Linked DNA regions of Homo sapiens. The protein of the gene in region 1 purifies or fractionates together with the protein of each later gene. This does not show direct contact. Each region holds a gene or a part of one and is shown on either strand. Other genes may lie near its edges.

Region 1 (3,500 bases):
GGTAGTCTGAGGCAGGCGGATCACCTGAGTTCAGGAGTTCGAGACCAGCCTGGCCAACATGGTGAAACCCCATCTCTACTAAAAACATAAAAATTAGCTGGGCATGGTGGCGCACACCTATAATCGCAGCTACTCAGGAGGTGGAGGTTGCAGTGAACTGAGGTTTTGCCACTGCACTCCAGCCTGGGCGACCGTAAGAACCTGTCTCAAATAAATACATAAAATAAAATATAAATTTAAATGTTTCTAGGAGAAACTTCCTTGATTACTCCTGTGGTTTGAATGTCCTCTCGTGATGTCAACATCTTCCATTAGGCCCCTACCTCCCAACACTGTTGCACTGGGGATTTAATTTCCAAAACATCCTTTTTAGGGGCACATTCAAGCCATAAGAGGTATATACCTAAGAAATAATTTACTGCCTGATATAGGTAGCTGATATACAAATTGTGTAGCACCATCCCTCAAAGGTAAGTAAGAATGTTGAGGTTTGAGGGGTCAACACCTTTCTCAAAAAAAGACTGCTAAAAACTATGGCTCTGGGCCAGGCACAGTGGCTCACGCTTGTAATCCCAGCATTTTGGGAGGCCGAGGCAGGTGGATAATGACGTCAGGAGATCGAGACCATCCTGGCTAACACGGTGAAACCCCATCTCTATTAAAAATACAGAAAATTAGCTGGGCGTGGTGGCGGGCGCCTGTAGTCCCAGCTACTCGGGAGGCTGAGGCAGGAGAATGGCGTGAACCCGGGAGGCGGAGCTTGCAGTGAGCCGAGATCACGCCACTGCACTCCAGCCTGGGCGACAGAGCAAGACTCCGTCTCAAAACAAAACAAAACAAAACAAAACACTATGGCTCTGAAGAATGACCATGCTTTCTCAGGCTTTAAGTAGCAACAAATCTTTTTTTTTTTTTTTTTTTGAGTTCAAGTGCAGTGGTGTGATCTTGGCTCACTGCAACCTCTGCCTCCCGGGTTGAAGTGATTTCTCCTACCTCACCCTCCTGAGCAGCTGGGATTACCGGCTAATTTTTGTATTTTTAGTAGAGACGGGGTTTTGCCATGTTGGCCAGACTGGTCTTGAACTCCTGACTTCAAGTGATCCACCCGCCTTGGACTCCCAAAGTGCGGTGATCACAGGTCTGAGCCACCACGCCCAGCCTGCAACACATCTTCATCTTAACAGTAGTCAAGGACTTGTTCTTACAACTCTAGGGTTTAAGTGATCTTCCTGCCTTGGCCTCCCAAAGTGCTGGGATTACAGGCATGAGCCACTGTGCCCAGCCCAGGAGCTTAGTTTTTAACGCCCCTGAAAATGGGTGGCTCATGCCTGTAATCCTAGTGCTTTGGGAGGCTGAGGTGGGAGGATCACTTGAATCCTAGAGTTCAAGAGCAGCCTAGGCAGCAGAGAGACTCTTTTTTTTTTTTTTTTTTTTTGGAATCAGAGTCTCTGTTGCCCAGGCTGGAGTGCAGTGGCGTGATCTTGGCTCACTGCAGTCTCTGTGTCCTGGGCTCCGGCGATTCTCCTTCCTCAGCCTTCCAAGTAGCTGGGATTACGGGCCCACGCCACCATGCCCAGCTAATTTTTGTATTTTCAGTAGAGACGGTTCACCATGTTGGCCAGGCTGGTCTGGAACTCCTGACTTCAAGTAATCCACCTGCCTCAGCCTCCCAAAGTGCTGGGATTAAACGCATGAGCCATCACACTTGGCCGAGACCCCCACCTCTACAAAAAAGTTTAAAATTAGCTAGACGTGCTGATGAGCACCTGTGGGCCTAGCTACTTGGGAGACTGAGGCAGGAGGATCGCTTGAGCCCAGGAGTTCAAGGCTGCAGTCAGCTATATATGATCATGCCACTGCAACCCAGTCTAGGTGACAGAATGAGACCCTGTGTCAAAAATAATTTAAAAAAATAGGCGGGGCACGGTGGTTCACGCGTGTAATTCCAGCACTTTGGGAGGCCAAGGCGGGCGGATGACAAGGTCGGGAGTTCAAGACCATCCTGGCCAACATAGTGAAACCCCATCGCTACTAAAAATACAATTAGCTGGGTATGGTGGCACGCACCTGTAGTCCCAGCTACTCGTGAGGCTGAGGTGGGAGAATCGCTTGAACCCGGGAGGCGGAGGTTGCAATGAGCTAGACCACACCATTGCACTCCAGCCTGGGTGACAGAGTAAGACTCCATCTCAAAAAAAAAAAACAGCCAGACGCTGTGCCTCACGCCTCTAATCCCAGCACTTTGGGAGGCTGAAGCTGGCGGATCATCTGAGGTCTGGAGTTCGAGACCAGCCTGACCAGCACGGAGAAACCCCGTCTCTACTAAAAATACAAAACTAGCTGGGCATGGTGGCGCATGCCTGTAATTCCAGCTACTTAGGAGGCTGAGGCAGGAAAATCGCTTGAACCCAGGAGGCAGAGGTTGCGGTGAGCCAAGATCACGCCATTGCACTCCAGCCTGGGCAACAAGAGCGAAACTCTGTCTCAAAAAAAAAAAAGAAATTAAATTCTTGGAGTTCTTTAGTACCTGCTTATAGGTCAGTGACACCTGGCCAGCTTTGTTGTTGTTTTTAATAAAATTTTTTTTCTTTCTGTAGACATGGTCTCACTTTATTGCCCAGGCTGTTCTCAAGGAGGCTCAAGTGATCCTCCTTCCTTGGCCTCCCAAAATGCTAGGATTATAGATGTGAGCCACCGTGACCATCCTGTTGATTTTGTTTCTAAGATTTTTCTCTTTTTTTTTTTGCTTTGAGATGGAGTCTTGTTCTGTCGCCCAGGCTGGAGTGCAGTGGTGTGATCTTGGCTCACTGCAACCTCCGTCGCCTGAGTTAAAGTGATTCTCCTGCTGCAGCCTCCCTAGTAGCTGGGATTACTGGCTCATGCCACCATCCCCAGCTAATTTTATATTTTTAGTAGAGACAGGGTTTCAGCATCTTGGCCAGGCTGGTCTTGAACTCCTGACCTTGTAATCCACTCGTCTCAGCCTCCCAAAGTGCTGGGATTAGAGCGGTGAGCGACCATGCCCAGCCTCTGAGATTTTTCTAAGATAAAGCAATTTTACCTGATAATGTGAACGTTTATTTTCAGTGTTACTCTAACTTCATTCCTGTTAACAGTATATACACTGTATTTTCTGAGATTTAATTAAATTTTGTATGTATTTTATGACTTGCTTTTATTCCTTTAGCATTACTTTTAATCCCTTTAGTAATATTTCATGTGATTCTATAATAGTCTGATTTATCACAAAATGGTAATAAATCAGGTATGTCCTATGATTTGCTTTGCCAGTCCACTGTTTGAGAGCATTTGAGTGTTTACAGATTTTAGTTGTTTCAAGCAAGCCACCAGAAGCTTTGAGCAAAGTTTTTTTGGAGTTATGTCTTGGTATTATAGTCTCAAAGATGAAACTATATAAAATAAACTTGAGTTTTGTAGCTCTTGGTACCTGTTGCCAAATTTCACTTAAGATATATGGAATCTAGGCGGTCACTGTGGCT
Region 2 (3,500 bases), on another chromosome or scaffold:
CCAGCACAATTACTGAATATCAATCCCTACTTGATCTGCTATGCCAATATCAAGTGCCATATATCATATTTGTGTATATGCTGTGTTATAATCTTATGAAATCACTATGGTATATGCTGTTCATCGAAACATCGTATGTTTTGGTCGTATGATGACTGAAACATCATATAAATATTTGTGTATGTGTACACACTTATATACACATAAATGTTTATATATATGTGCATATATACACACATGATAAATGTTTATTTGACATATGTAGTCTATCATTGATCAAAATGTTTATATGGTAATCCCAGCACTTTGGGAAGCTGAGGAGGACAGATCACTAGAGGTCAGGAGATCGAGACCATCCTGGCTAACACGGTGAAACCCCGTCTCTACTAAAAATTACAAAAAAAATTTTTGCCAGGTGTGGTGGTGGACACCTGTAGTCCCAGCTACTCAGGAGGCTGAGGCAAGAGAATGGTGTGAACTCGGGAGGTGGAGCTTGCAGTGAGCTGGGATCATGCCACTGCACTCCAGCCTGGGCGACAGAGCGAGACTCTGTCTCAAAAAAATAAAATAAAATAAAATAAAATAAAAAATTAGCCAAGCATGGTGGCTCTTGCCTGTAATCCCAGCTACTCGGGAGGCTCAGGCAGGAGAATCACTTGAACCCGGGAGGCAGAGGTTACAGTGAGCTGAGATGGTGCCACTGTACTATAGCTTGGGTGACAGAGCGAGACTCTGATTCAAAAAAAAAAATTTGGCCGGGTGCAGTGGCTCACGCCTGTAATCCCAGCACTTTGGGAGGCCAAGGCGGGCGGATCACGAGGTCAGGAGATCAAGACCATCCTGGCTAACACGGTGAAACCCCGTCTCTGTTAAAAATACAAAAAAATTCGCTGGGCGTGGCAGTGTACGCCTGTAGTCCCAGCTGCTGGGGAGGCTGAGGCAGGAGAATGGCATGAACCCGGGAGGCGGAGCTTGCAGTGAGCTGAGATCGCGCCACTGCACTCCAGCCTGGATGACATAGCAAGACTCCGTCTCAAAAAAAAAAAAAAAAATTTACATGGTTGTTTATGTTATACATGGTCTGACATTGACCAAAACGTCATTATGTGTGTATGTGTATTTACATATACAGGTCAGATCCCGCAGGTCACACAAACACAGTAAATGTTTTTTGTATTTGAAAAATGTTTATTGAATTATTCAGGAAATAACTGCTTTATTCACATCTATGATAAACCAGAGTAAGACCATGCATTAATATTTGTACATTGAGGCCAGGTGTGGTAGCTCACTCCTGTAATCCCGGCACTTTGGGAGGTCGAGGTGGGAAGATCACCTGAGATCAGGAATTTGAGACCAGCCTGGCCAACATGGTGAAACCCCGTCTCTAATAAAAATACAAAAATTGGCCAGGCGTTGTGGCGCACGCCTGTAAGCCCAGCTACTCAGGAGGCTGAGGCAGGAGAATCACTTGAACCGAGGCAGAGGTTGTAGTGAGCCGAGATCACACCACTGCACTCCAGCTTGGGCAACAGAGCAAGACTCCGTCTCAAAAAAATATATATATATATTTGTACATTGAGAAAATTAGACACTGGAATTAAATGGACCTAGATTTGAGTTCCAGTTTTGCCATTAATGAGCCATATGAAATTAAAATTGATTTCTTTAAACCTTCATTTCTTTATTATAATATGAGGTACTATCTAAAGGTTTGTCATGAGACATCGAAGGAACATATTAACATGCATAGCATACCATCTGACAAGTATAATACTGTAAATCAATAAATGGTAGGCTATTTGGCTCTACATATTACTATGGTCGACTTATTTACTAGTTGTGATATTACTGTGTGTGTGTGTGTGTGTGTGTGTGTGTGTGTGTGTGTGTGCAGGTTTTCATCCAGTTTTTGGCTCATAAGCCCCATAGCCATTGTTACAGTGTTTGTTATAATGCTGGGGCACTCAGAAATAGGCTTCAGGAAACAGTCTCTTTCTGACCTTCTCCTGCTCTCCTCTCACCTTCCCAGAGTAGAACTCTAATCTGATTGTGGGTCATAAGACCCTCATTCCAGAGAAGGTCCTGACTCATACCCTGGAGGAAGGAATGCCGCAGAGAGAGGCCAATAAGAATCTAAACAGACAGGCTTTGCTGGGTTTTGATCAGACCCTTTTTGTCCAATAACATTTTGATATGGTTGTCCATGTTTCAATCGTGGACAACCAATAAAGTCTCTTTAAAAGGCCCAAAGGACCAGGCACAGTGGCTTAAGCCTGTAATCCCAACACTCTAGGGGACTGAGGTGGGAGGATCGCTTGATCCCAGGAGTTCAAGACCAGCCTGGGCAACACAGGGAAACCCTGTCTCTACCAAAAAAAAAAAAAAAAAATTAGGTGAGTGTGGTATTGCACACCTGTAGTGCCAGCTACTTAGGAGGCTGAACTGGGAGGATTGATTGAGCCAGAGAAGTACAGGCTGCAGTGAGCTGTGATTGAGCCACTGTACTCCAACCTGGGCAACAGAACCAGACCTTGTCTCAAAAAATAAAAAAAGGTCCCCACAACAGGATTCAGAGAGCGTCCAAGTAGCTGAACAGATGGAGGGTGGTGCACCCAGGGAGAGCACAGAAGTTCCGCACCCCTTCCCGTATGCCTTGCCCCATGCATCTCTTCATCTATATCCTTTGTAATATCCTTATAATAAACCAGTAAATGTGTTTCCCTGAGTTCTGTGAGCCACACCAGCAAACCAATCAAACCCAAGGAGGGGGTCATAGGAACCCCAATTTGAAGCTGGTTGGTCAGAAGGTCAGGAGGCCCAGATTTACGACTAGTGTCTGAAGAGGGGGACAGTCTTGGGGACTGAGCCCTCAACCTGTGGGATGTGACACTGTCTCCAGGTAGACAGAGTTGAAATTAAATTAGTAGACACCCAGCTGGTATCTGCTGCAGAACTGATTGCTTGCTTGCTGGTGGGAAGAAATCCTCATATATTTTGGGGTCTTCTGTATTAATGATTATTGTTGTGTTGCATTAAGTGAAAAAATTAAAAAAACACACACACACAGTTTAGGGTTTTCTAAACACTATGGCAAAAGCATAGAAAAAAATTTTATACCTGAAATTATTTGTGTTTTTGGAAGAATATCACAACTCTAATTCAATTGAACAAATGACTATTGGGTACATGGATTTGCTAATAATTACAAAGATAATGGAGAAATTGTTCCTGCTTAATAGAAGCTTGCAGTCTCAATAAGGGGAGATGAACATAAATAACTGCAATATCAGACTGTACAGACTATTAACTTGATAAAGGAGATTATCTTCAATTATTTCATCCTGGAGACAAATATATGAACAGTGAAGACAACTGTCCTAGTCCATGACCAAACTAAATACATTAAACAAAGCTCCTCATACTAAAAACACTTGTCCTGCTGTTTTCCCCTCCCTCCTTTCCTTCCTTTCTGCCTCCCTCCATCCCTCCCTTCCTTC

What was found. The genes of interacting proteins can lie anywhere in the genome.
Region 2: the proteins of FNBP4 (region 1) and LURAP1 purify together in Homo sapiens (affinity purification with mass spectrometry; one large-scale study listed by BioGRID and IntAct). This does not show direct contact.

Annotation. Positions count from the first base shown.
Region 1 is NC_000011.10:47,760,842-47,764,341, reverse strand, and holds part of FNBP4 (formin-binding protein 4), read left to right. Parts: intron 1-3,500.
Region 2 is NC_000001.11:46,209,834-46,213,333, reverse strand, and holds part of LURAP1 (leucine rich adaptor protein 1), read right to left. Parts: intron 1-3,500. UniProt on the Homo sapiens protein: Acts as an activator of the canonical NF-kappa-B pathway and drive the production of pro-inflammatory cytokines. Promotes the antigen (Ag)-presenting and priming function of dendritic cells via the canonical NF-kappa-B pathway.